7 linked regions of the Homo sapiens genome follow. The protein of the gene in region 1 interacts with the protein of each later gene in a biochemical or structural test. Each region holds a gene or a part of one and is shown in the gene's direction. Other genes may lie near its edges. The genes, in order: SLC34A1, LIN7A, FRMPD3, SNTG2, DLG2, DLG5 and TJP1.

Region 1 (4,478 bases):
AAATCTTTAGAAGTGGTGGCTGTGTAAATCAGCAGCATTTTGGAATTATATCTCTTGATGGATTTGATCGATAGCTAACTGCCTCCCCCACTAAACCCAGAGCTCCGTGACAGCAGGGAAGGCAAACTTCAAAAATATCAAAAAGCACAACCTTATTAAAAAGGAGAAACACCCCCAGTTCACCAGGAGCACCTTGGATTCAGCTGCTCCTGCCAAGGGTCTGAACTGCACGGGGGAATGGAGAGAAACAGGTCACGTGGGCCGGGGTCTCTGGGCCCGCTGTGGGGGTGTCAGTTTGCTCATAGGTGGAGACACTCGATGTGACATTAACAGCACCTTCAAGCCCAAGGACCCAGAGATTCTGACACAAGAACTGAGAACTGATTGCATTTCCGTGACTCAGCGACACCCTCCTACCTGGGCATGAACCCAGCCCTAGCCAAAGATCCAGAGACCCGACTCCCATCTATTTCCTTTTCCTCTCTCCCTCCCCGTCACCAATTCTACTGGTCAGATGTCCCTGGGATGCACCTGTCCTCCCCAGCCCCTCCGTTCCCATCGGAGTTCAGGCCTCATCATCTCCTGCCTGGACCATTAGCCTCTTAACTGGCCCCTCCGCTTCCAGGCTCCCTTCCATATATCCGGGTTCCACCCCGGGGGCCATTCTAAAAGGCAGATCAGGCCCATCCCAGTCTGGCCAGCGGCTCCACATTCACTCAGACTCACATCCTGGACCCATGGTCGGGCATTAGAGACCTGCCACGATTCAACATTCCACGGCCTTTCCAGCTTAGGTCCTCATCTCACACTCCCTCTCCTCTGAGCTCCCCCTGGGAGACTTACAGACACCCCGACGCTTGGCAAGGCCATAGGATGTTTTTGTTTGGTTTGGTTTGGTTTTTCTGAGACAGTCTCACTCTGTCACCCAGGCTGGAGTGCAGTGGCACGATCTTGGCTCACTGCAACCTCCGAAGGCCATAGGATGTTTGGGTCATTCCCTGGGGAGTCCTGTCAGGCCAGGAACGAGGGGACCCTGGGAACAAGGTGCTGAGTGGCATCAGGGTCTCTGCCTGCAGGCGGGGGATGTGTCTGGGTCGTGGTTGATGGGAAGAACCTGACCATAGATTCCCCATGCAGAGCTGACGATTAGCAATTAACTGGGAGGAATCTCAGGGGTGAGGTTAATTGGGGGACAGAGGGAGGGCAGCTAGGGTTCCAGGGACTTTGCCCTTGACCCAAGAGTATAAAGAGGAGGGTCTCAGTTCTCCTCAGGGTCCTGGAGGCTTCATTGAGCTGCTGAGCAGAAGCTGAAACACAGAATTCTAAGGTGAGCCCAGGACCCTCACATCCCAACCCCACCCCCAGCTCTGAGTAGGAAACAGCCCAGCACCCCAGCCCCTTCATCTGTGTCCTATCTGCGCCCACCCCCACCGCGCCCCATATAACATGTCAGTCCAGCCAATCGCGGTGGCTCCCACCTGTAATCCCAGCACTTTGGGAAGCCGAGTGGGCGGATCACCTGAGGTCGAGTTTGCACTAAAAATACAAAAAATTAGCCAGGTGTGGTGGCAGGCACCTGTAATCCCAGCTACTTGGGAGGCTGAGGCAGGAGAATCGCTTGAACCCACGAGGCAGAGGTTGCAGTGAGCCAAGATTGTGCCACTGCACTCCAGCCTGGGCGGTAAGAGTGAAACTCCATCTCAAAAAAAAAAAAAAAAAGGACTCCTGCTCCTTCAGGACTTGAATTCAACTCTTCACACCCCTACAACAGCCAAGGACGCTGGGACAATGCGGGGAGTGCTGAGGCAGATCAGGGCACTCCACCCCAATAGCCAAGACTCCTGGGGCAGTGCGGGGACAAGGGGGGGCTGAGGCAAGCCTGTCAGTGTTTGTTCATTGCCCCTTGAGGGGGTGGATGGGGAAAGGAATTCATTGTGAGGGGAACCCAGGAACTCGGGATCCGGCCCAGGGGATCTCCGTGTGTGCCCAGCTGACCCCATGAGAAGGCAGGTGTCTGCAGCTCCTCCTTGCTCTCCAGGTGGGCAAAACTGAAGCCCGGCCCAGCCCCAGCCCACACCTGCAGCCACTGCCAACACCACGTATTCCCTGGCCCCCTCCAGCCCCAAACAGGCTGGGCGTCCTCAGTTCTCAGTGTCTTTTATCAATGCTATATCCAAGCCTCTGGTTCGGAGCCTGGGCTAGAGCTCAATAATACTCATTGAATGAGTGAATGGTGAATGAATGATCACCTCACCACCACCACACACACCCCTCCGAGACTCACATGCAGGTGCCCAGCACAGATGTGCACATGTGAGTCTGCATGTGAGTCTCGGAGGGCTGTGGTGGTGATGATGGAGGGTGTGGTTTGCTGGGTGTGTGTTTGTGCGTGTGAGTCTCGGAGGGGTGTGTGTGTGTGGTGAGGATGGAGGGTGTGCTTTGCTAGGTGTGTATTTGGAATCATGCGCCATGGGGGTTTGTGCAGGTGAGGGTGTGTGGGCATGAGTGTCCCGGACACAGCTATTGTCATTCAGCGTTGCTGAGACCCACTGACCTGCAGACCTCATAGTGGGTGCCCAGGATGTTGTCCTACGGAGAGAGGCTGGGGTCCCCTGCTGTCTCCCCACTCCCAGTCCGTGGGGGGCATGTGATGCGAGGGACGGCCTTTGCCTACGTGCCCAGCCCTCAGGGTAAGTGCTGCTCCCACACCCTGGACCCTGGTTGCCCACGGTTGCCCACATCCCGGATGAGGCCACTTCCCCCGCCTGTTCCTCCCCGCCTCCCCACTTTGGGGCCCTGGGGCTCCTGACCAGGCTCCCTCCCTAGTCCTACACAGGATCCCGGGGACCTCTGCCTATGCCTTCCCCAGCCTGGGCCCTGTGGCCCTTGCTGAGCACACCTGCCCCTGTGGGGAGGTCCTGGAGCGCCATGAACCACTGCCTGCCAAGCTGGCCCTGGAGGAGGAGCAGAAGCCAGGTGGGCCTGGGCTGGGGGTGGCAGAGGCGGCAGCAGTCCCTGCCCTGGCCTCTGCCCACTATGCTCATGGCTTCCCCCATCCAGAGTCCAGGCTGGTCCCCAAGCTGCGCCAGGCTGGCGCCATGCTGCTCAAGGTGCCACTGATGCTCACCTTCCTCTACCTCTTCGTCTGCTCCCTGGACATGCTCAGCTCGGCCTTCCAGCTGGCTGGAGGTAGGGCCCGGGTGGAGGAGACCTGGGAGGGGTTCCTGAAGGGCCTTGGACAACGCTGGCTCATGCTCCCCAGGGAAGGTGGCTGGTGACATCTTCAAGGATAACGCCATCCTGTCCAACCCGGTGGCCGGGCTGGTGGTGGGGATCCTGGTGACCGTGCTGGTGCAGAGCTCCAGCACCTCCACATCCATCATCGTCAGCATGGTCTCCTCTGGCTGTGAGTTGGCCCACCAGGGTGGGGAAGAGCTTGGAGGGGCACCCCAGGAGCTGGGAAGGGTGGCAAATGGGGAGCGTGACCCCAGTAAGGCTGGCCTCCATTCAGCTTGACTCCTGTATCAGCCAGGGACATGAGAGGAGCCCAACTGTAGCTGTATGTGACCCAGATGATTTATGGCAAGGAACTGGCTTCCCCGATGGTAGTTTGTCTGGGCAAGTCAGGAATCCGTAGGCCAGGGCATTGGAAGGGCAGGCGGGAACTCTCAGGTGGGCGCCGACACTGCAGTCCAGACAGGGCAGCGTTTCTCCTTTCTCAGGGAAGCCTCAGTTCTGCTTGAGGCCTTTCATTCTATTGGATTAGGCTGACCCAGGTTACCAAGGATAATCTCCTTTTCTTAAAGTCAGCTGACTGTAGACGTGAATTGCATCTACAAAACACCTTACAGAACACCCAGGCTAGTGTTGGGTTGAATAACTGGGTACCACAGCCTAGCTAAGTTGACACATAAAACTAACCATCACTGGCCGGGCGCAGTGGCTCATGCCTGTAATCCCAGCACTTTGGGAGGCTGAGGGGGGCAGATCACGAGGTCAGTAGATCGAGACCACCCTGGCTAACACGGTGAAACCCTGTCTCTACTAAAAATACAAAAAAAAAAAACAACAAAAACCAAAAAGCATTAGCCAGGCGTGGTGGCAGGTGTCTGCAGTCCCAGCTACTCAGGAGGCTGAGGCAGGAGAATGGCATGAACCCAGGAGGCAGAGCTTGCAGTGAGCCGAGATCATGCCACTGCACTCCAGCCTGGGCGACAGAGCGAGACTCTGTCTCAAAACAAACAAACAAAAAAACTAACCATCACACTCTGGGGCATGTGTGCACACACAAGCACAAATCTCTATTTGCACATAGGACATGAGCCCACGAGCCCTCATAACGAAGGCCTCACACGCACACACGTTCACATCCATACACCATGTGCAGCACGTGTACATCTACTCGCATGGATGAATGCACACACCTGTAAACGCACAGCCCGTGCCCACATGCACCTGTGACGCCAACGTTAGGCAGA
Region 2 (3,997 bases), on another chromosome or scaffold:
TAGTGAAACGCCATCTCTACTAAAAATATAAAATTAGCCGGGCGTGGTGTTGCACACCTTTAATCCCAGCTACTCGAGAGGCTGAGGCAGGAGAATCTCTTGAACCCAGGAGGCGGAGGTGGTGGTGAGCCCAGATCAGGCCACTGCACACCAGCCTGGCCAACAAGAGTGAAACTCTGTCTCAAAAAAACAAAAAAGGGCAAATAAACCAGAAAAAAAACCCTTTTGCACTAAGTATATGACAGTCACATACTGAAACTGTTTTTCTGGTTTGCCTTTTTTTTTTTTTTTTTTTTTTTTTACAGTGTTTGAGACATAGAAACTTACACTGTGCACATCTGATTTCGTGGTTATTTTTCCTGTGGCATTTTAAATTAAGAATTCCTTTTCTATTGAAAAATGATTAATGTTCACCTTTCTTTTATTTTAGTTACTTTATGTTTTTATGTTACATTTAAATTTTAATTAATCTGTTATATTTAGCATAGTGTATGAGATTGAGTCTCCATTATTTTGTATTATTTAATTTAGTTAATAGTCCTTTTCTCCTTTGGTCTAAAGTCCACATTAATAATAAATAAAGCTTTCCATGTGATGACTCTCCTTCTGGACTCTGTGCTATGTTCTACTATCTCTTTTATACACACAATAAGACACCACTTTAATCATTGTAGATTCTTAATAAATTTTAATATCTGATACAGAAATTTTCTCTTTGTTACTATGTTTTAATTTTTTTCAAAATTTTGTTGACTAGTGCATTTACTCTTCCAGATAAAATTTGGAAATTTCATTCCTAATGTTAGCATTATAATTTAGGTCTTCATTGCTTTTCACCCTTATGACCTGAATCCCCACACAGTCCATTCTGTGACCTAGTGCAGCCTAACCTGCTTATAGTTTAACCACAATGTAATAAATAATAACGATGATGGTAAGATAACTCATTTGCCATGTTTTCTTAAAATTTTAAATTTTGGGTTCTTAATGTGATATTAATTTCAGATTTGTCTCCAGGGAAAAGAACATTGAACCTCCTCCCTTTAAGAAGTGTCATTGTATTTTCAGAGTGTGGAAGGAGAACACCATGAGAAAGCTGTGGAACTACTCAAGGCTGCTAAAGACAGCGTCAAGCTGGTGGTGCGATACACCCCAAAAGTTCTGGAAGAAATGGAGGCTCGCTTTGAAAAGCTACGAACAGCCAGGCGTCGGCAGCAGCAGCAATTGCTAATTCAGCAGCAGCAACAGCAGCAGCAGCAACAAACACAACAAAACCACATGTCATAGGTGAGAAGTGACTTATTCTATACAAGGAGTATATATATATATATACACACACACATATATGTATATATGAATATACTTAAAATATATTTTAGATATGTTCTAAAATATATTTTCTTAGCTGAAACAAAATCATTAGATTTAAATAATCCAAACAAAATCAATCAAACAAAAGACAGTGATCTAAAAGTATATAAGCAAGATAGTTTATGTGCCATTCAGCTATATTCTCCACAAATATAAGATAATTTGGAAAATGATATACTTTGAAAGGGGCAAGTACAGGCTCTAGGATGCTTTTATACAAATTAAGAAAATGCAGCCTCTGTGCAAACCCAGATCCTAAGGAGAAGAGTGTGGGCTGGATTCCAGGCCTCACTCACCCTGTTGGCCAGTTGCCTTTACACAGTGTATTAACTGCACAACCTTATAGTGCTGACCCTGGAAAGATCTCCTTTAGAATACTGAGATACAATTTATTGGAAAAGTGCCCCACTGAAAAGAATGAAGCTGAGACCTGCCACTGTCTATGCTGTAAGAGATTCTGAAGTTCTCTGCGGATGCTCCTTTAAAGTGTGTCTAACATACAAATGGCCAACAGCTATATGAAAAAATGCTCAACATCTCTAATCATCAGAGAAATGCAAATTAAAACCACAATGAGATATCACCTCATACCTTTTAATTTGGCTATTATCAAAAAGAGGAAAGATAACAAGTGCTAGTGAGGATGTGAAGAAAAGGGAACCCTTGTACACCGTTGGTGGGAATATAAATTGCTACAGCCAATTTGACAGACAATATGGAGGTTCCTCAAAAAAGTTCATAGAATTCCATATGATCCAGCAATTCTGCTTCTGGGGAGATATTCAAAGGAATTGAAATCAATATGTCAAAGAGATGTTTACACTCCCATGTTCAATACAGCATTATTACAACAGCTAAGATATGAAAACAACTGAAGTGCTATCAAGGGATGAATACATTTTTTAAATGTGGTAAGTATGTGATAGATATCTATATCTACCTACACACACACACACACACACACACACACACACACACACACACACAGATGTATACCATTTAATATTTAGCCTTTAAAAAGCAGGAAATGTCATTTTTGTCAGCGTGGATGGGCCTAGAGAACATCATGCTAAGTGAAATAAGCCAAGCATGGGCAGACAAATACCACATGATCTCACCTATGTGTGGAATCTGAAAAACTTTAATTCATAGAAGTAGAGAGTAGAATGTGGTTTCCAGAGGCTGGGAGGCTGGGGGAGGAGGGTAGACAGAGAAAAGGGAAAAGGTCTTAGCTAAAGGTTACAAGTTTCAGTTAGGTAGAAGGGGAATAAGTTAAGATGATCTATTATACAACTTGGTAACTATAGTTAATAATACTACATTGCATATTTCAAAATAGCTGAGAGAATGGACTGTAAATATTCTCACCACAAAGAAACAATAAGTATTTGTGGTAACAACTTTGGTAGCCTGATTTGATCATTCCACAATGTATACATGCATTGAAATATCGCATTATAATCCATAAATATATAAAATTATTACTTGTCAATGAAAAATAAAACTTTAAGAGTTTTGAAAAAGTTGTAAAGTAGAAATAAAATGTGTCTAAGATTCTCCTGCCTTTTTCTAAATTCCACTTTGTAACAAAGAACACTAAATCAGGTTTTGCTGTATATTATCAAGAGAATTGAAGAAAAAATGTTAAGAGACCCCATCTTAGAAGTTCCTACTATGCCCTATGCCCTTATCACATTTTATCCCTAATCCTCAGAAAAAAACCTTCAAGGCAAGTATCAATAAATAGTTTTTTAGATGAAAATATGAAGCTAAAATAGCTTCAGTGGATTTCCCATGACTGCATTTACAGAAACATAGAATTCTTTTCCTTTTTACTCCATCAGGTTTTCATCTGCCAACATCAGATATTCTGGAGTTATATAAATTTTCCTTGCTATCCTTTGGAGAAGACAGTTCATATTGTTAGATACCTTTACACTATGATGTCTGTGAATGTGTATTTGAAGTGAACTTCAAATATTCTTGGAAAAATGATTGTGGGTAATAGTGGTTTTAGGTCATTCAACATCAGATTACTATTTGCACAAACAGAAATATTGGATATAACATGAGGCTTTTAATTGTTTGTGACACTTGTGAAAAGAAGAAGCTACAGGCTGGGAGCAGTGTCTCATGCTTGTAATCCCAGCACTTTGGGAAGCCGAGGTGGGTGGATGACGAGGTCAGGAGTTTGAGACCAGCCTGACCAACATCGTCAAATCCCATCTCTATTAAAATTCAAAAATTAGCTCCTGTAGCCCCAGCTACTTGGGAGGCTGAGGCAGGAGAATTGCTTGAACCCAGGAGATGGAGATTGCAGTAAGCCGAGATCGAGCCATTGCACTCAAGCCTGAGCAACAAGAGTGAAACTCTGTCTCAAAAAAACCACAAAAAAAAAAAAATGAAAAGAAGAAGCTACACAGAAAAGGGGGGAAAAGATAGGGATTTGTCCTACAACAATCCTGGGAATTCAACAATCTATCTATCTTTCATAGGCTGCTATTTTTATTATATGTACCATATTTTAGTATCTTTATCTAAAATTGCATTCTATCCTAAAAAATACATTTATTGGGAGCCAAGCGTGGTGGCTCACGCCTGTAATCCCAGCACTTTGGGAGGCCGA
Region 3 (3,997 bases), on another chromosome or scaffold:
GTCTCTAAACAACGTCTTTCACAGAGCAAATGTGTGAATTTTGATGAAGTCCAGTTTGCTAATTTGTTCTTTTATGGACAGTGCTTTTGGTGTCATATCTAAAAAATCTTTGTCTAACCCAAGGTTACAAGAATTTTCCCCTATTTTTTTCTAGATGTTTTATCATTTACAGTTTTATATTTAGGCCTATGATCCATTTGAATTAACTTTTGTATGTGGTGCAAGGTATCCATCAAAGTTTCGTGTGTGTGTGTGTGTGTGTGTGTGTGTGTTTTTTTTTGCATATGGATATCCAATTGTTATAGCACCTTTTGTTGAGAAGAGTATCCTTCCTCCACTGAATTGCCTTTGTACTTTTGTTAAAAATCTGTTGTCTATATATATATATATATATATATATATATATATATATATATATAGATCTATTCCTGTACTCTCTATTCTGATCTGTTGGTCTACTTGTCTGTCGTTATGTCAACATCACACTCTTGATTACTGGAGCTTTATAATAATTCTTGAAATCAGGAAGTATTTGTTCTCCAACTTTGTTCTTTTTCAAAGTTGGTTTGGCTATTATAGGTCCTTTGCATTTTCATGTGAATTTTAGAATCACCATGATAATTTCTACCAAAACCTGCTGTGATTTGGATTAGGATTGTGTTGAAACTATAGATCAATTTGGGGACAATTGACATCCTAACAATATTGAGCCTTCCAATCCCTGAACACAGTATTTCTACATTTAATTATACCTTCTATAATTTTCCTCAGCAGTATTTTGTAGTTTTCAGTATATAGGTCTTTCATATGTTTTGTCAGATTTGTCCCTAATTATTTCATATTTTTTGATGCTATTGTAAATGATTTTGATTTTAATTCCAATTTTCAATTATTTCTTGCTAGCATATACAAATAGAGTTGGGGTTGGGCATGTTGGCTCACGTCTGTAATTGCAGCACTTTGGGAGACTGAAGCAGGAAGATCACTTGAGCTCAGGAGTTCAAGACCAGCCTGGGCAACATAGTGAGACCCCCATCTCTATACAAAAAGATTTATTTTTAAAAGAATAGAAATACAATTGATTTTTGTGTATTGATCTTATATCCTGAAACCTTGGTAAACTCACTACATTTGGCCCTTCATATCTACAGGTTCCATATTTGTGGATTTTGAAAATATTCAAAAACAATAAAAAATAACAGTGCAATAATAAAAAATACAAAATTTAAAAATATAATATAATAACTATTTGCATAGCATTTTTATTTTAGTTTAGTTTGAGACAGAGTCTCGCTCTGTCACCCAGGCTAGAGTGCAGTGCCATGATCTCGGCTCACTGCAACCTCCACCTCCCAGGTTCAAACAATTCTCCTGCCTCAGCTTCCCAAGTAGCTGGGACTATAGACATGCACCACCACGCCCAGCTAATTTTTGTATTTCTTAATAGAGACAGGGTTTCACCATGTTGGCCAGGCTGGTCTCAAACTCCTGACCTCAAGTGATTCACCTGCCTCAACCTCCCAAAGTGCTGTGACTTTAGGCATGAGCCACAGCATCTGGCCTACATAGCACTATAGCAATTTTTTTTTTTTTTTGAGATGGAGTTTCGCTCTCGGCTCATTGGAACCTCCACCTCCTGAGTTCAAGTGATTCTCCTGCCTCAGCCTCTCAAGTAGCTGGGATTACAGGCGCCCGCCACCATGCCCAGCTAATTTTTGTATTTTTAGTAGAGACGGGGTTTCACCATGTTGTCCAGGCTGGTCTTGAACTCCTGATCTCAGGTAATCCACCAGTCTCCGCCTCCCAAAGTGCTGTGATTACAGGCATGAGCCATTGCACCTGGCCTTATATAGCATTTTAATTGTATTAGGCATTATAAGTAATCTAGAGGTGATAGAGGTATACAGGAGGATTTGCATAGGTTACATGCAAATACCACAGCATTTTATATAAAGGACTTAAGCATCCACAAATTTCAGTATCCATGGGGGTCCTGGAAGAAATCCTCCATGGATACCAAGGGAAAACTGTAGTTGTAGTAGTTTTTTGTAATAGAATCCACTGAATTTTCTACATAGATGATCATTGATGATGTATTCCTTTTCCACTCTCTCCTATATTATAGTGATATCACTGTGGCTTCCTAGTCCCTTAGTCCATACTGGTTCCACTTTAACAAAATGGGAAACTGGTCTAACCAAGGCTGACTCATTGATAGCTGGGGCTGTGACCCTCAGGGTTTGGGGGTTGTCATACCCTTGGCCAGTAGTTCCTGGAGACCTCCTCTAGGATAGCATAGGGAAGATTGACTCATCAACATTTTTGTCCTTCAGACACCAAGAAGAAGAATGCCTCCCCCATCCCTGCAATTCAGCTCTCACCCTGGGCTTCTGGGCCAGGGCCCTGTGGAGAGTCCCTCCCAGTATCTTTCTCCCCTTGTTTCCATCTGAGCTAGTAAAGGAGCCTTGTATGGCTTGGGGGTGAGTATAACCCCCATGAAAAAAAGTAGGAAAGTCTCTTATAAAAGGAGGAAAGAAAGGGAGTGGTGCCATGTCTCACTTTTGCAGTGAACTGGACTGTCTGCTTGTACCTTGCCATTGTGTGCCCCTGTCACTGAGAAGGCTATCTAGTATCTGCTGAATAAAGTGAACAGTGTCTATGAGACCTGAGCCTCCTCTGTTGTCTCTTCTCCAAGGGGAGCTCCTTCCTCTGTCCCTTGATCTAGCATGCCTTACTGATACTATGAGTATTGTCTGGGATGTAAGGGAGTAGATCAGGGGGTGGGGAAGGAATGTCTCCTTCAGCTGATAGGTTTGGACTGCCCTCTCTCACAGAGTCGGAATGATGTTATTCGAGAACGCTTTGGAATGGATCCCAAGCCAGAGATGCTTTTGGGCCTTGCTGCGCTCCACATCTATATCACTGTCTCAGCCACTCGACCTAGTCAGAAGATCTCGCTCAAGAATGTGGAGTGAGTTGTGCTGCGGCCCGTTGGGATGGGGGGCGAATAGTTGCGTAGGGAAAAGGTACACTGGTTGAGCTATGCTATGCTTTTCAGAAATGTAGGACATGGGATGGGAGTGAGAATTGGAGTCCCTCATATCTAGACTATGAAGCCCTAGAGCTACAGCTTCTACTAGGGAGCTGTGGCTAATGTTATTTTCCTATCCCTGTCCCTTTTTCTTTCTCCCAGTCTCTATTCCTCCATCTCTACCTCTCAGATTCAGTCAATTTCTGTCTTACCATCTTCTCTCTGTCCCACTTTGCCTCTCTCACTAATCTCTTACTTTTCTTCTGCTTTTAGGAAGGAGTGGGGCCTGGAACCCTTTCTTCCCCCCTCCCTCCTGCAGGTCATCAAAGAGAAGAACCTCCGGAAATCTCTCTCTCAGCAACTGAAGGCTCACCAAACACATCCTTCCTGCGGCACCAAGGTATCCAGAGTAGACCACTGGGCATGGTGCTCCAGGCACTACTGGCCACAGGGAGATCCTGGGTGGTTTCCCAGCAGAGTCTGGTCCTCTAGGGATCCTCACCACTGCTTTTGACTCAGGTGCACATACGGCTTGGCCAGGTGTGGGGCAGTTGTGGAGAGGAGTCTTCCCCAAGCCTGAGCATCCCAAAGAGACAGCTGAGTGACACATCACTGAGAGAGCTCAGGGTCCTCAAAGCAAAGGGGCCAAGATGCAGGAGATAATTCTCAGGTCCTTTTCACCAATTAGTCAGTGCCGACTGAGCATGTATCATGTGGAAAGCACTGGACCCTAGGGAGGCACATGTTTTCCATGGAAATGACTAGGCTGGTGTGGTGGCTCATGCCTGTAATCCCAGCGCTTTGGGAGGCCAAAGCAGGAAGATCACTTGAGCCCAGGAGTTTGAGACCAGTCTGGGCAACATAGTGAGACAGCGTCTTTACTTTTAAAAAAATAATTTAAAAAAAATGTAAAAAAAGGAAATGTACCTCTGTACCTCTAATTCATCAGTCCTAGGGTGTGGAATT
Region 4 (3,997 bases), on another chromosome or scaffold:
CTTGTAACAATTTCTATTTTGTCTAAGTACAGCCACCCTGCCCTTTTGTTTGCATGAGATATTTTATTCCATCTCTTCACTTTTGGCCTATGTGTGTCTTGAAATCTAAAGTGAGTCTCTTGTACACAACATATAGTTAGGTCTCAATGTTTTTGTTGTTGTCTATTTCACCACTCTAATTTCTGTGGATAGAGAAGCTGAGACTCAAAAATAATATTATTTATCAGCACATATGATGGCTTTTTACATGCTGGGAAAGATGACTGCTTTTACACAACATCAATATCCTTAAATTGCGAATTTCTATTTAGGTTCTAGTCCACCAATAAACCCACTGCCATTTTTGGTTATGTGCTTCCATAAACTAATCTTTATTTTATTTCTTTGCATGTTTTTTCTCTTTCATTAGAATGCTGCCTTTCTGTAGTAATATTGAGAAACATTTTACTTTGTCCATATCTTCTTTCCATTTAACAATATTACCAAAAACAAGCAAACAAAGAAACTAAAGCTCAATTTATTCAACCAAAAATGGTTATTTATCTTCATTTCTTTACATTTAAGGGCACTGAACAAATTCTATCCCATTTTTCCCATAGGAAAAAAAAAAGTACATTAAATGATTGAAAGAAGTTATCTGTATTCATTTTCTATCGATGCTTAACAAATTAACACAAATATAGTAGATTAGAGACACACATTTATCCTCTTACAGTTCTCTAAGAACTTGTCTCTTAGGGCTAAAATCAAGGTGTTGGCTGCTTTCTCCTGCAGCCTCTGGGGGACAGTCTGTTTTCTTGGCTTTCCCAGCATCTGGAGGCTTTGCCCTTGTGCTCTGAGCTCACCTGTGCCAGAAAGCTCCAGCCACCGCAGCTTTGGAAGCATGCCTCCCTCTCTGCCCTCAGAGTGGAGGATCTTGTATGAAGCCTGGATCACCAGCCCAGCCTGTTCAGGAGAGCTCTCTCTGGGGTGTGTTCCTTCCAGCAGCACAGCTTAGAAGGAAGGTATAGGGTGGAAGTTCAAAAGGATCAAGATATTTTTATTTCCAGAAGGTTATTGGACTCTTTGTGCACTGGCACCTGCCACAACAAGTGAGGGGAAGCTCCTTGCCTTTTCTATTTCCCTTATATTTGTGTGACTAAAAGAGGCTACTCTAGTGTTTTTAATTTCCTTTTCTTAAAAACACAAACAAACAAAAAAAAAGTCTGTCCCTAGGGGATTTTCTTTCCTTCTCACTCAGACAGAAGCAGCAAACATACGGTGTCTGATTTCACCCCCCTACATCCAGCATCATACACAGATGAGCAAACCCTTCACTCAGGAAGGGGATGAGTGATTTTTCTTTCAATATTTGTAGAGATGGAGTCTCTAAATAAGAGAGCAGTGTCTGCTTGGCCTACCATTGGAGCCTGATTCTGCATAACGATTCCAGTCACCTGCGTGTCCCAGTGGTTTTTTGTCTTACTTAAGAGAGTTCTTTTGGAGATCCCACCCACAGGCTCTGACCTTATGGAATATTCAAAGCTGATGCAGTCCCCAGCGCTGTCTCTTCCATTCCACTAGCATCCATCAACTCAGTCAGCTCAGACACAGCCCTGAGCAGTAAACTGCGTCCTTGGGGCCTTTGGTCCAAGCCTCAGTGCTTTTTCTAGCTTTGCCTTCTGTGCTTCAGCCACTGGATTCAGATTCCATTGTCCCATCTGTGGGGGCCAACGTGAAGCTTTAAATAAACATGTAAACATCTTTTATTTGTTACAGCCTGTGACATTATGATTACATCATTCTCCACCAACAATAAGAAAATTTACATTACAATGATTTGTCCCATTGAGTGTGTAGCACGAAATTCTCATGGAATTTAATAAATGGTCATCAAGTTGACCCATTTAAAAAAAAAAACTCACAGAATTTTGAAAACCACAGCATGGCAAATCATTATTGGAGACAGACAGTGCAATTAACACAGTGAGGTGGCTGAGAAGTTCCACAATAGCAAAAGTATCCCGCCTTCTTCAATCTACTTTTCTCCAAATCTATGCAAACAAAGAGTGTTTAAAAAATATAACTTTTTAATATCAAACACATTTTGGGAAATGCTGCTGTGTTGATACCATCACATTTCAGTAAAACTTCCATGAAAGTCACCGACGCTGAGCATTTCAGTAGAACTTCCACGAAGGTCACCGATGCTGAGCATTTCAGTAGAACTTCCATGAAAGTCACCGACGCTGAGCATTTCAGTAGAACTTCTGTGAAGGTCACCGATGCTGAGCATTTCAGTAGAACTTCCATGAAGGTCACCGATGCTGAGCATTTCAGTAGAACTTCCATGAAGGTCACCGATGCTGAGCATTTCAGTAGAACTTCCATGAAAGTCACGGATGCTGAGCATTTCAGTAGAACTTCCATGAAAGTCACCAACGCTGAGCATTTCAGTAGAACTTCCATGAAGGTCACCAACGCTGAGCATTTCAGTAGAACTTCCATGAAGGTCACCAACGCTGAGCATTTCAGTAGAACTTCCATGAAAGTCACTGATGCTGAGCATTTCAGTAGAACTTCCATGAAAGTCATTGATGCTGAGCATTTCAGTAGAACTTCCATGAGAGTCACTGAGGCTGAGCATTTCAGTAGAACTTCCATGAAAGTCACTGATGCTGAGCATTTCAGTAGAACTTCCACGAAGGTCACCGACCCTGAGCATTTCAGTAGAACTTCCATGAGATACACCGATGCTGAGCATTTCAGTAGAACTTCCACGAAGGTCACCAACACTGAGTGTTTCAGTAGAACTTCCGTGAAAGTCACCGACGCTAAGCATTTCAATAGAACTTCCATGAAGGTCACCGACACTGAGCATTTCAGTAGAACTTCCGTGAAAGTCACCGACGCTGAGCATTTCAATAGAACTTCTGTGAAGGTCACCAACGCTGAGCATTTCAGTAGAACTTCCACAAAGGTCACTAACGCTGAGCATTTCAGTAGAACTTCCATGAAGGTCACCGATGCTGAGCATTTCAGTAGAACTTCCACGAAGGTCACCGACGCTGAGCATTTCAGTAGAACTTCCGTGAAAGTCACCAATGCTGAGCATTTCAATAGAACTTCCATGAAGGTCACCGACACTGAGCATTTCAGTAGAGCTTCCATGAAGGTCACCGACACTGAGCATTTCAGTAGAACTTCCATGAAAGTCACCAACGCTGAGCATTTCAGTAGAACTTCCGTGAAGGTCACCGACGCTGAGCATTTCAGTAGAACTTCCGTGAAAGTCACCGACGCTGAGCATTTCAATAGAACTTCCACGAAGGTCACCGACGCTGAGCATTTCAATAGAACTTCCGTGAAAGTCACCGATGCTGAGCATTTCAGTAGAACTTCCATGGAAGTTACCAATGCTGAGCATTTCAGTAGAACTTCCATGAAAGTCACCAACGCTGAGCATTTCAGTAGAACTTCCACGAAGGTCACCGATGCTGAGCATTTCAGTAGAACTTCCACGAAAATGACTGACACTGAGCATTTCAGTAGAATTTCCATGGAAGTCACCAACGCTGAGCATTTCAGTAGAACTTCCATGAAAGTCACCGATGCTGAGCATTTCCATAGAACTTCCATGAAAGTGACCGGCGCTGAGATGGAATGACTCCTGTGAAACCCTCACAAAATGGACCCCCCCCATGAAAGAGGAACCATGAATATTTACCTGATAACAAGAAGTACCACAAAAGACCCTGGCAACACCACAAGCTGCACAAAGACCACTGCAACCTTGTGCAAAGACAAGTCTTCTATGAGGACACAAGCTCCCCTTGCTATTGATCCTTGTAGCCAAGGATAACGGTTTCAAAACAACTTCTGTAACCTCCTCACTTTGCCTTTAAGCTTTCCTGAATCCCAGCCTCTTTGGATATCCCTATAATCTCTTATAGCACATATGTCCCAGCTTGCAATTGCCTACATAGTCCCAAATAAACTTTGGGAGAGCCTCTCTCTG
Region 5 (3,997 bases), on another chromosome or scaffold:
TCTTCAATTTTTTCTTCATTTGTTAGCTTTACCTCAACACCCACCCACCCTGCCCCACAGAGAATTCTGCTTCTCTCACTGTTTCAAGACAGTGCAATATACTCCACAAGAGTTGAAAAAGGTGCAGTATTAAATCTTGACTCCACTACTTACTAGCTGAGGAATCAGGGCTCATTAACATCTCTGAGCCTCAGCTTCTTCATCTGTAAAATGGGGATCATCAGAGTACCTACCTCAAGCAATGCCTGTGAGACATAAAAGCCAGTGGGTATGAAAGCCCCTCAAGGCCCGCAAAGTGCCACAAAGACATGAATTTTCTCTCCTTCATCACAGTGGCTTTTTCTCTTTCCCTTTGTCTCTTCCTCATTACCCATAGGGCTTTTCATTCTTGGACATGGAAGTAAAAATTAGTTTAAGATGCTGAATTCACAGCAATTATGTCATGCCCACCTCCACGGGTTTCCCCACAGGCTTCCTGGGTATTACACAGTACCTGATTGCCACAAGGTCTTGAGAATTGGGGTGGCCCGGACATAAGGGATGCTGCCATTGCTGTCTACCAACACTACTGCTCTGAACCAGAACCAGAACCAGTGCCTTTCATAGAAAAGTAAACCAAGAAGTGATGGATAGACAGAGATAGAGAACTCTTGAACAAAATTAATCAAAGCTATGCTTTGCCCTAGTTGTCTGAATCGCAATCATACACACTGACATCAAATATCTTATTAAAGATTTGCCTTTAGAACGTTCCATCAGAATGATTTGCAAAGCCATTGGGAAGAGATTTTTATGGGAACTTGATGTGCTCTATTTATTTAGAGAAAACGATGCTTTCCAAAGTTAAATGACCATATTGACAGAAACACAAAATAGAACCTACCGTTGGCCTCATCACTCATCCTGTTTCCCATGACTGAAATCAGAATGCAAATTTGTTGACATCTTTCTTTATGTTAAGCACTCAATGGGGCACTGGAGACATGGTGATGAATAAAACTCAGTTCTCGCCTTTATGAAACTCCCAGCCTAATAAGGAGGTCCAAGAGTTACCTGACATTTAAAGCTTTTGTTATCCCATGGTCAGAATTCTTCCCTTGCACATTAATTGTTGAAGATTTCCCCTGTAAAGTTATAGTCTAAAATTGCAATGTTAGTCTACGATGCTTCTATCATTAAAACTATACTTTCTCCCCAAGAATTTTTACACTTCTTTAATTGACCCACAGCATTTTCCTGATGAAGTAATACTAAACTAAAACCTTGAATGCGTATACCCTCTACATCGCTCAGGCTTTAGATAACTGGGGGTTAGTAATCAATCACCTTCATGTTTTTTGGCCTAGGCTCTGTACATTTCAGTAGTTTATTCAAAGGGAATCATTCTTTTCCTGAGTACAAGAAATAGTGAATCTGACTCCTCACTGACCAAACCCCTGACCAATGTGGCAGAGTCCCCTGAACACTTCTGGGGTGGCCATGGGTACATACCACTTAGGAGGAGCATCAAGGTCCACTCTCTGTACCCTTAAGAAGTAGCTTGGCATGGTGGCGCCATTCTGAGCCCAGGCCCTCCTTGGGACTGAGATAAGATATGACTTCAGCCTGAGGCCATTTCTCACACTTGAAAAAGTAAGACACTCCTATCCCCATCCCATTCCAGCTACCCAGCCTCCAAGGAAGTCATCCAACTTCGCAGCTATACCCACATATTGCTCAATTTCCCCAAATCAGTCTCATTATCAAAACAGTCGATCATATTAACTCTTCTTATGAAATTACCTCTCTTTCTGTGGTGCTGTGGCTGTTGAAGGAGGAAAACCTGGCATTGATAGACTATGAATGTGCTTCAGGGGTGGGTGGTGAGGATATACAGCAAAGGTGAATTGCCCTTTGGTTTCAGAAGTTACCTCATATTCCACTTCTGCTCCACTATTTCTTCTAGTAGACAGAAAGTTCTTTTCAACAGCCCTAACCTATTGCTGTTCCAAAGGTTAGTCAATGCAAAAAAAAATGCAGACACTTCCGGGTTTGCAGGTGAAATTGAGCTAATCCTCTGACCAATTAATTCATCAATTATATAAAATAGATGATTGAAAAAATAAATGGCAAAAACCAATTTACTTTCTATGGTTATTTGTTGACTTGAGGTCCACCCTGAGTCAGAAGGCTTGTAGCAGATGACATTGGAGGGGCTGACATTTTACTACTGTGTCTTCCTTAGTTCTCTATCTGAAGTTTCAACGCACAGTTTAGCAGCAATTATAACCAATGATGTAGGACACACCTCAATTTTTGATCTTCATTAATTGACCCACAGCATTTTCCTGACGAATTAATATTAGAGTAAAACCCTGAGTGTCCTGATGAAGTTTTTATATCATAAATGAAATAAGCATATACTTGCTTTTGAACAGTGTGCTTCTTGGGGAAATAAAATAGAAGATGAAATAAAAGGTACAGCAATTCTGATTATGTAGCAGCCATCTATTGAATTGGACCCTTTCCTTGAACTAAATGGCTTCCTTTTAAGTAGTAATGCTTGGTGTAGAGGCCATGGCATTCCATTCTCAATGCCAGACAGAAAGAAGTCTCACAGGTCATTGCCCTGCAGCAAATAGCTAGCAACCAGTTATTACTTAGAGTTATGACTGTGAAAATCTGATACTAAAATGGTGCTAAAGAGTTTTATGAGGATGAAGTTATTTTTGAATGGTTCAAGGAGAAAGAGCAAGGAGAATTAACTCTGAGCTGTGTCTGTTTCCTGTGTTTCAGAGCAGGGCTTGTCTCTGTAATATATGACTGTTAGTTCACTGTGGTTTTCTTTCCTTCTCTTCTCAGGAGGACAAGAAGACCTCATTCTTTCCTATGAGCCTGTTACAAGGCAGGAAAGTAAGTTTCCCAGCACGCTTTCATTCCTAATTTCTGGGCCATAAGAGGTGACATCATTGAAGGAGGGAAAGAGTGAAGGACTAAGGAGAATAAACTCGGCTTAATGCTCTGTTGTCTTGAGACCGTACCTTACTCTTACGCTGTCTCTCACTTTCTCTCTCTTTGACCCTATCACCAAACAGACAACTTCCTGCTGAGTATGGGCACTAATAGCACCTAAGAGAAGGATGCAGCCCTCCAGATGAGTGGTCCTCAATGGGAAGGAACACATTCAAATTACCTAAAGAGCACTAGCTACGAGACTGGTGAATAAATTCTCCTGAGAGACTGATGTCAGCTCAGTATTGAGAATGACTTTCTAGCAGATCTGCCTAAGATGTAGGCTATCTGTAAGCTGCTGCTTTTTCCTGGAGGCATTTATACAGAGGCTAATTGCTACTGACAAGGATACTGCAGAGAGAATTCAAGCATCAGATGGGGACTTGTACCCAATGAACTCTCAGGTTCCTTCTAATCCCAGATACAAGGAAATCTAGAAACTGTAGCAAAGTATAGAGAGTATTTTGATCTGGGGAAAAGAAATCATGAAAACATAAGATGTTATTACTACTAACAATTACTTTTTATAGTCATATCTAAACAATAGCCAAACAGCTGGTTTGGATTCTTTTTTCTCCCACTCAGTTGACTAAATTCAGTTGTTTTGACATTATGTAGGCAGAGCCAGAGAGTAAGCAAAACTCCTCCAAATGTTTCTTTTCATCAACAGATACTGCAATTGCCTTTCCCTGCTAGTAGATTCCAGAAAGTAGGCACTGCCAATCTCCTGAGTGTTAAACATCAATTTCCCTATGCAAGGCTGTATGAGTAATTTATCCAGTGAAGTAATGCCCTTAGCATCTCTTACTGTCTGGCAATTAAGAATCACCCTTGCAGGACAGTTTTGCAGTTGTTTCCAACTCTTTCTCTTTACCTACATCTTCCTTTCCCATTCTGCAGTAAACTACACCCGGCCGGTGATTATCCTGGGGCCCATGAAGGATCGGATCAATGACGACTTGATATCTGAATTCCCTGATAAATTTGGCTCCTGTGTGCCTCGTAA
Region 6 (3,997 bases), on another chromosome or scaffold:
GCTGAGGTGGGAGGATCACTTGAGCCTAAGAGGTATAGGCTACTGTGAGCTGTGATTGCACCACTGCACTCAGTCTGTGTGACAGAGGGAGACCCTGTTTCAGAAAATAAATAAATAAAAGCACAGGCAACATCAGCAAGAGGAAGGTCCCTATTCTGAAAAGCCCAGACTTGCCAGTCACCAGAACAGGGTTTTTCCTGGATAAGCTGTCAAGGGCAGGGCAGCCACTTGGCAGAGGACCTGGTGTCCAGGGAGCATGCACAGGACCTGGAGACTGGGGAGACCATGAAGACTCAGTCCTTCCTGCAGAGGGGAGGTAGCCAGAGTCTCAGTTAAGGAGGGATGTTGAATTTCTGCCGTATGGTCAGCACTGGCCCCTCTCGGGTGCCCAAGCTGCCCCCTGGCTTCTGCCTTCTGATGCATCCACCCCCATCCCTGGCAGTATGGCAGCCTGGACGTGCGGAACAAGACAGTGGAGGAAGTCTATGTGGAGATGCTGAAGCCCAGGGATGGCGTCCGCCTGAAGGTGCAGTACCGCCCTGAGGAGTTCACGAAGGCCAAGGGCCTGCCTGGTGACAGCTTCTACATCAGGTACCAGTGGCTGGGGAATCGGTGGGAGATTTGGAACCAGAGGAGAGGCTTTCACTGGAGACTCTTTTCCTGGTGAATGGCTCTCTGTTTCTTGCCCCCCAAGGCTGGGGCCATGATCATCATTCCTTGACACTCAATCTGCACGCTTATTTATGTTGAGATGATTGTGACTTAGAACAACCCTTTAGGGCTTAAAGAACCAGCTGGGCCCCCTCTTTAGGGCTTAAGACCTAGAGAATTTGGAGGCAGTCAAGCCCCGTTTTCCTGTGTGCTGTGCTCCTCTTTTTCTGGTGTCCCCCAAGCCAGGTTTGCAGATCCCTCTGCAGTGTGTGTGGACTTCCAGGCATCTTCAGTGCCCTTACTACTGTATGAAATGCTGTGGGCATTTAGGGATGGCAGCAGGCTTTCTAGGAGGAGCTCAGAGCTTTCTTCACATTTCCTAAGATCCAAGATCACAGAAAGCATGAGAACACTGATGCGGTACAACTCCCTGTCTCTAGGGTAGAAGATGACATATTTCCATCCTAGAGAGATTCCAGTCTGTAGGAACCAGGGGCCGGGCCTGGGCTTCGAGGAGGGAGGCAACTGGGAAAGGCCACCTGGAAAGGGAAGTTATGGCCTCAGATCTTGGTGAGTTCTTTGATGGGGATGCGCCCTCAGTGTTAGGGGAGCAAAGGCAGTCTTTGCCCCTTTATGTAAAACACAGGGCTCCCCACTTTGAGAATCACCACCCTCGGCGATTCCTGATCAAGTTTGGAGACAGCCCAAAGCAGAATGGCAGCCTTAGGGGCCTGGCCACAGAAGGCACCTGGTTCGTCCTTGGTGGCCAGAGCCGCCTGATCGTGTTCCTTCTGTGCTGTGGTCCAGGGCCCTGTACGACCGGCTGGCAGATGTGGAGCAAGAGTTGAGCTTTAAGAAGGACGACATCCTCTACGTGGATGACACCTTACCCCAGGGCACGTTCGGGTCCTGGATGGCTTGGCAGCTGGACGAGAATGCCCAGAAGATCCAGCGCGGGCAGATTCCCAGCAAATATGTGTAAGTGTTCTCCGGGCCTGGGGTGGGGTGGGGCAGGGGTCGCCGAGGGCCACCAGCCATGGAGCTGTCCCATGGGAGGGGGCTGGGGCCAGGGCTGCTGGAGGAGGGATTCTGCTTCTTATCTTAGCTTCTGCTCTCTACATTTTGCCAAAAGTGCTGGTCTAAAAAGCTGCTCCTAGTGTGAGTCAGTGCTGTATAGAGCACAGTGATGGGTCAGAAGGCATAACGTGTTTTAGAAAAATGGATTTATGGAGATACTCGTGCCTTGCCGCTCCCTCAAAGTGTACCATTCAGTGGTTTTCAACATATTGATAGGTGTGTGCAGCCGCCACTACAGTTAATTTTAGAGCATTTCCATCACCTCAAACAAACCCCAGACCCATTAGCTGTCAGCCCCTTATCCCACTGTCCTCCCACCCAGCCCTCAGCCCTAGGCAGCCACTACTTTACTTTTGATACCCATGGGTCTCCCTGTCTGGACTTCTGTGTGGTTGGGATTGCATAGTGTGGCCTTTCATCTGGCTCCTGTCACTGAGCATGTTTTCGAGGCAGCCTGCATCCCTGCATCATTTCCCTTCTATGGCAGGAAGCGTAACTCGTCATGTCACCAATTGAAGGCTGTCCTAGCAGTTCCTTTTGACACCGAGCTGAATATGCTGTAGTAGAAAAAATCGCCTGCTCTGAGAGCTTGCCCTGGTGCTGGTGTTTGTGTCACCCCCGCAGCATGTACCGAGGGTTCCCAGGGGCGTGGGAGGAGATGTAGCCTTGAGACCTGCCAAGGAGTGTGGGGGGAGCCCAGTGTCTGGCCCACCTTTGCTTTTCTCACCAGGAAGGGCAGGAAGGGCAGGGCAGCAGGGTCTCGATGGCCCTGCCCAGCATTGTCCCCTGTGCCACAGGATGGACCAAGAATTCTCCAGGAGGCTCAGCATGTCTGAAGTCAAAGATGACAATAGCGCCACAAAGACGCTGTCAGCGGCTGCACGCCGGTCCTTTTTTCGGAGGAAACACAAGCACAAACGCAGCGGGTCCAAGGACGGGAAAGACCTGCTCGCCTTGGATGCCTTTTCCAGTGACTCCATTCCACTCTTTGAAGGCAAGTGGCTGAGCTCATTTTCCAGTGGGCTCTCCAGATGGGGCTTGCTGTGGATCCAGGAGCTCCACAACAGGGACTTAAACAAAAGAGAGTCTTACTTTGCTTTTGTGCGCAAGTCTGAAGGTGTGTGTTCGGCTTGGTCGGGGGGTGCTGCCATCTTCAGAGCCACATCTATGGGGTGTGGCTTCCATCCTCCCAGTCACCGCCTGTCAATGCAGCTGCAGCCATCATGTCCCTGTTTCAGGCAGCAGGAGGAAGGAAGGAGTGGTAAGGCAGAAGTGTGCCTCAGCTGAGCGTGCCTCTTTCAGCAGCTATCTGGAAGCCCTAACCTGTGACTTCAACTTGCATCTCATTGTCCACTTGCATGTGCAAGAGAGGTCAAAAAGGCATGTTTTGGCCAGGCACAGTGGCTCACACGTTTAATCCCAGCACTTTGGGAGGCTGAGGTGGGTGGATCACCTGAGGTCAGGAGTTCAAGACCAGCCTGGCCAACATGGTGAAACCCTGTCTCTATTAAAAATACAAAAATTAGCCAGGTGTGGTGGCATGCACCTGTAATCCCAGCTACTTGGGAGGCTGAGGCAGGAGAATCCCTTGAACCCAGGAGGCGGAGGTGCAGTGAGCCAAGATCACGCCACCGTACTCCAGCCTGGGTGACAGAGCAAGATCCTGTCTCAAAAAATAATTAAAAAGAAAAGGCATGTTTTAGCTGGGTGCATTGCTGGCCTCAGTAAGAGGTTCAGTTACTGAGGAAGAATGGAGGGATAGCTATTGGGTAGGCAAGAAGCAATCTCTGCTGAGTGCCTTGCTTGCCATTTGTTTTTAGGTTCTTACAGGCTGCTTGGTAGTGACCAAGAGCTGTCGGTTTCTGCAGAACTTCGGCATTTCTGGCCTCAGTCCTGTGTTCATGAACAAGTCTTGTATAATCCTTATGGAGCAAGATGCTAGTCCAGGGCTGGAGTTGAGTGATAGGAGATGTCAGACATCCCCTGGTAGACAGCCCTTGTGGAAAGGATGCATTTGTCCTTTAAAGCAAGAGGCCCTTAGGAACGTGGCTCCCAGGGCCCTGGTGTGTGTCTACTGTCTACTGTCCTAGAATGTGCCCTCCCTGGCAATCAGGTGTGGGGGTGGCAGTGAGCAGCAGAGTGTAGGGCAGCTGGCTGCCTCCCTCCCTCTCTTCGCTTTTTACAATGAAGACCTTAGGCCTAGGGAGTTCAGTGGATCACACTGTAGTTCATGGCCCACTGTCACTATCAGCTGGGACAAGGGTTGGCA
Region 7 (3,997 bases), on another chromosome or scaffold:
GGCTAACACGATGAAACCCCATCTCTACTAAAAATACAAAAAAATCAGCGGGGCGTGGTGGCGGGCTCCTATAGTCCCAGCTACTCGGGAGACTGAGGCAGGAGAATGGCGTGAACCCGGGAGACAGAGCTTGCAGTGAGCCGAGATCGTGCCACTGGACTCCAGCTTGGGCAACAGAGTGAGACTCTGTCTCAAAAAAAAAAAAAAAAAAAAAGGCTGGGCGCAGTGGCTCACGCCTGTACTCCCAGCACTTTGGGAGGCCGAGGTGGGTGGATCATGAGGTCAGGAGATCGAGACCATCCTGGCTAATATGGTGAAACCCTGTCTCTACTAAAAATACAAAAAATTACCTGGGCATGGTGGCAGGTGCCTGTAGTCCCAGCTACTCTGGAGGCTGAGGCAGGAGAATGGCATGAACCCGGGAGGCGGAGCTTGCAATGAGCCGAGATCGCGCCACTGCACTCCAGTCTGGGCGACAGAGCCAGACTCATCTCAAAAAAAAAAAGGAGTATATTTAGGTCTAAAAAGTAAGTTGTTTTGCCAGGGAATCAATCAAAATGCATGTTTGCTTTCTGTGTTAATTTGTTTTTCTAGAAAGAAGACTTAGCTTATTTGTGATGTATAACTTTAGGGTGTAGAACATTGCCTTGCATGCAGTAGGGGCTCAGTAATTGTTGAGTGAATGAAGCTCAAAACAGGGCATGGTATACTAGGTGCATCCACCACCCTTCTTTTCATTAACACAGCTCTGGAAGGAACCTGTATTACCTGGTCATTGTTTTCACAGGGATATATTGTGAAACAGATGACATCTGTCTTTGTGAATTTACTCAGAACTCAGTTTGATTTTACTCCCTGCTGCTGTGAGAGAGAAAAGTATAGTTTGGGCTGGATACCAGTATACTTTTTTTTCCTTTGTAGTGTGAAATTGAAACTCTTTATAATTGTGCTGCATTTTCCCATATAGGTATTTAATGGTTAGAGAAATGGAAAGGAGAATAAGGGTCATGGAAGATAACTAAGAGGGTAGTTGTTTCTGTAAGTTTCCCTTGTAATGCTTTTTCATACTCTTGTCCAATGAGTACAACTTCATCAACTGGAAAATAGCTTAAAATATAGGATTCTGTCCTGCATTTCAAAACCATTTACTGTTTGTCACTAAATAAGACTGCCTTCAGGCATTTCTTTCTTTCAGTAAATACAGGAGTAGCAAAATTTTCTTCCTTCAGATGATGTGTGCTTATGCTTCACTTAAAAACACACCTCAGAAATGGTGAGAATTAGATATGGAAAATAATCTTTGTTAGCACAGGACAGATGCCCCAGGAAGCAAGCAGATATTACCCAGTCTAACAGTTCCATAGAGCTGGATTAGAACTGGAAAGGTTAGGAGACAGTAGCTTAGACATTCACCTCCAAAGTAAATTAGAAGTTTCCAGGATTCTAAAACAGTGCAAGAAGAGCAGTGTCCCTCCAGGGCTGTGCACATGTCTCAGTCCAGAGATTGAGTCAACTTCTTCAGGACAACCAGGGATTTTTTGTTATCAAATCTACCTTTCAGGACTCAACTCACTATGTGAGACTTCCAGGTCTCAATAAATGATGGTGGTTTGTAGCTTTTAAAGAACTAAATGTGAGAGACTGATGTTCAGTTGTTTTTGTGTTTGTGAGACATCATTAGATGAGAGAGAGCCTGAGCATCAAGCATGCAGCTTCACCAGTAAGACTCCACCACCACAGGGCCCAGCTTACGATTGGAGATGGAGGAGGTCTTGCTAGAAAGGAACATGTGAAGCCTGGCCAGGTTTCAAGCCAGGCATATTTCTATCTCTCCATTTACCATTCCCCTCCCAGGGGCTCAATGTAGCTCTTCTGTTGTGTTACTTTTTCCTGTGTCTTCACTTGCAGAATTTCTTTGCCCAGCCTTTTTTTTTTTTTTTTTAATGGGACATGTCACTCCCACTTATTCAGAACCTGCTAATTATCCTTGATCACCACTCTTTGATTTGATAAATTTCTTTGCTCACTATTAGCAGCTGCAACAGAGGTGGAGAAGGAGCAAAGTTCAAACACATTGCTTTTCACTGCAGTAACAGTTAAAGTACATGAAGGATGGGCCAGCAGACGGGACATAACTAAGTGATTGTGTTTTATTTATCTTCAATTTCCTTGGCCAAATGAGAGTTAGTGATATGTTCCTTTATAGACCAAATTATGGTGAAATGGTGGATGTTGGTTGATATTTTTAAATGACATTTGAGTTCCATTTGCTGCAAATTTACTTAGTTAGATTGACCATTTTCTTTCATTTTTCTATTGCGCTTGCTTTGCCATCACCTAGATTTCTTGGCTCTTACACTAGCTATGACTACTTGAAAAGGAACGTCAAGTGGTAAGACTGGCAATTAATGTGAGGCTGTTCCATAAGGTGTCCCTCACTGTGTCACTGGCATTATGTGCACTTTCAGATTTTAATGTCATCATCAAGGGCTTAGTCTAAATTCATGAAAGCAAGATAAAAAAGCCAATCATAAGACTTCTTCAATGAAAATTTATGAAAATGACCAGGAGTATTCCAAATGTATATGTTATTGTTGGTGCACATAAAGCTAGTGCAGCTTTGGCATTCAGCAGTAAGGTTTAGATGGCAATGTTGCAATTATGGGTCTTTTAAAAAGATTTGTGTGAATTTTGTGTTACATATTAACAATTGGCAATCTGAAAAAATAAACATACATGGCACAATTTGACTTAAATGAACCTTGTAAAATAAAGCAGGATCTGCTGCTCTAGCAGTCATTTAACCAAAAAATGGACCTGGTAACTCAAGGGGAAATTTTAAAGTAAAAGCTCCAGTTTTTTTAGTTTTACTGAAACGCAGATATGCCCATTGTCTGTGGCTGCTTCAAGGCTATAACCGCATAATTTGAATAGTTCTAACAAAGACTGTATGGGCCAAAAGACCACAAACATTTACTCTCTGGTGTTTCAGTGAAAAAGTTTGCCAACCCCTAGTCTGTGACATCTGTTTTTATGGTGCTCCGAGTATGCCAGATGCCAGATACAAAATCAGAAGTGGGTCTAGGGCCGGGTGCGGTGGCTCATGCCTGTAATCCCAGCACTTTTAAGAAGCAGAGGCAGGCGGCTCACTTGAGGTCAGGAGTTCAAGACCAGCCTGGACAACGTGGTGAAACGCCATCTCTACTAAAAGTACAAAAATTAGCCAGGCGTGGTGGCTGGCATCTGTAATCCCAGCTACTCGGGAGGCTGAGGCAGAAGAATCACTTGAGCCTGGGAGGCAGAGGTTGTGGTAAACTGAGATCGCGCCACTGCACTCCAGTCTGGGCGACAGAATGAGACCCTGTCTCAAAAACAAAAAAAGTGGGTCTCAGGAAAATTTGTGCCATGATATGTTTTCAGAATATTTGCAAGACTTTCTTAAATCTGTCAACATTACTATCTTTTGTAAATAACAATTAAACTATACCCAAAATTTCACCTGCCTTTGGTTGCCATCTTCTGGATGTTTTACTAATATTCTTAAAGTTTTTGTGTGTCTGGACATTTCTTGTGCCGATGAATGGTCGAATCTGTTTTTATATTTTGGTAGAGTAGCTACCCATACTCATGAGAATAAATTGTGAAATTTCTAGTTTTTTTTTTTAACTTAGAGATACATGGAGAAATGAGAACTTGTTTTGTAAATGTGAGTCCATTTTCAGGTGTTGGCATTTTCTTCATTTGTTAACAGGGGAAAGCCTCCTGAAGCTGATGGTGTGGATAGATCATTTGGCGAGAAACGCTATGAACCCATCCAGGCCACTCCCCCTCCTCCTCCATTGCCCTCGCAGTATGCCCAGCCATCTCAGCCTGTCACCAGCGCGTCTCTCCACATACATTCTAAGGGAGCACATGGTGAAGGTAGGAAGTTCGGAAGTAGACATTTTAACACAGTAATGCTTATGAAGTAAAATTCTGGTGGTTTCTAGGCAAAATG

The links.
Region 2: the proteins of SLC34A1 (region 1) and LIN7A interact in a test that uses a peptide from one of them, tested with the Homo sapiens proteins (one large-scale study listed by IntAct).
Region 3: the proteins of SLC34A1 (region 1) and FRMPD3 interact in a test that uses a peptide from one of them, tested with the Homo sapiens proteins (one large-scale study listed by IntAct).
Region 4: the proteins of SLC34A1 (region 1) and SNTG2 interact in a test that uses a peptide from one of them, tested with the Homo sapiens proteins (one large-scale study listed by IntAct).
Region 5: the proteins of SLC34A1 (region 1) and DLG2 interact in a test that uses a peptide from one of them, tested with the Homo sapiens proteins (one large-scale study listed by IntAct).
Region 6: the proteins of SLC34A1 (region 1) and DLG5 interact in a test that uses a peptide from one of them, tested with the Homo sapiens proteins (one large-scale study listed by IntAct).
Region 7: the proteins of SLC34A1 (region 1) and TJP1 interact in a test that uses a peptide from one of them, tested with the Homo sapiens proteins (one large-scale study listed by IntAct).

The regions. Positions count from the first base shown.
Region 1 is NC_000005.10:177,383,161-177,387,638, forward strand, and holds the start of SLC34A1 (sodium-dependent phosphate transport protein 2A), read left to right. Parts: upstream 1-1,273; 5' UTR 1,274-1,327; intron 1,328-2,534; 5' UTR 2,535-2,581; coding exon 2,582-2,690; intron 2,691-2,826; coding exon 2,827-2,976; intron 2,977-3,060; coding exon 3,061-3,189; intron 3,190-3,262; coding exon 3,263-3,406; intron 3,407-4,478.
Region 2 is NC_000012.12:80,808,755-80,812,751, reverse strand, and holds part of LIN7A (protein lin-7 homolog A), read left to right. Parts: intron 1-1,068; coding exon 1,069-1,287; intron 1,288-3,997. UniProt on the Homo sapiens protein: Plays a role in establishing and maintaining the asymmetric distribution of channels and receptors at the plasma membrane of polarized cells.
Region 3 is NC_000023.11:107,557,423-107,561,419, forward strand, and holds part of FRMPD3 (FERM and PDZ domain-containing protein 3), read left to right. Parts: intron 1-2,834; coding exon 2,835-2,971; intron 2,972-3,304; coding exon 3,305-3,431; intron 3,432-3,997.
Region 4 is NC_000002.12:1,359,458-1,363,454, forward strand, and holds part of SNTG2 (gamma-2-syntrophin), read left to right. Parts: intron 1-3,997. UniProt on the Homo sapiens protein: Adapter protein that binds to and probably organizes the subcellular localization of a variety of proteins. May link various receptors to the actin cytoskeleton and the dystrophin glycoprotein complex.
Region 5 is NC_000011.10:83,471,622-83,475,618, reverse strand, and holds part of DLG2 (disks large homolog 2), read left to right. Parts: intron 1-2,841; coding exon 2,842-2,892; intron 2,893-3,891; coding exon 3,892-3,993; intron 3,994-3,997. UniProt on the Homo sapiens protein: Required for perception of chronic pain through NMDA receptor signaling. Regulates surface expression of NMDA receptors in dorsal horn neurons of the spinal cord.
Region 6 is NC_000010.11:77,804,390-77,808,386, reverse strand, and holds part of DLG5 (disks large homolog 5), read left to right. Parts: intron 1-442; coding exon 443-591; intron 592-1,458; coding exon 1,459-1,629; intron 1,630-2,215; coding exon of another isoform or gene 2,216-2,291; exon of another isoform or gene 2,292-2,488; intron 2,489-2,525; coding exon 2,526-2,722; intron 2,723-3,997. UniProt on the Homo sapiens protein: Acts as a regulator of the Hippo signaling pathway.
Region 7 is NC_000015.10:29,710,755-29,714,751, reverse strand, and holds part of TJP1 (tight junction protein 1), read left to right. Parts: intron 1-2,341; coding exon of another isoform or gene 2,342-2,392; intron 2,393-3,751; coding exon 3,752-3,921; intron 3,922-3,997. UniProt on the Homo sapiens protein: TJP1, TJP2, and TJP3 are closely related scaffolding proteins that link tight junction (TJ) transmembrane proteins such as claudins, junctional adhesion molecules, and occludin to the actin cytoskeleton.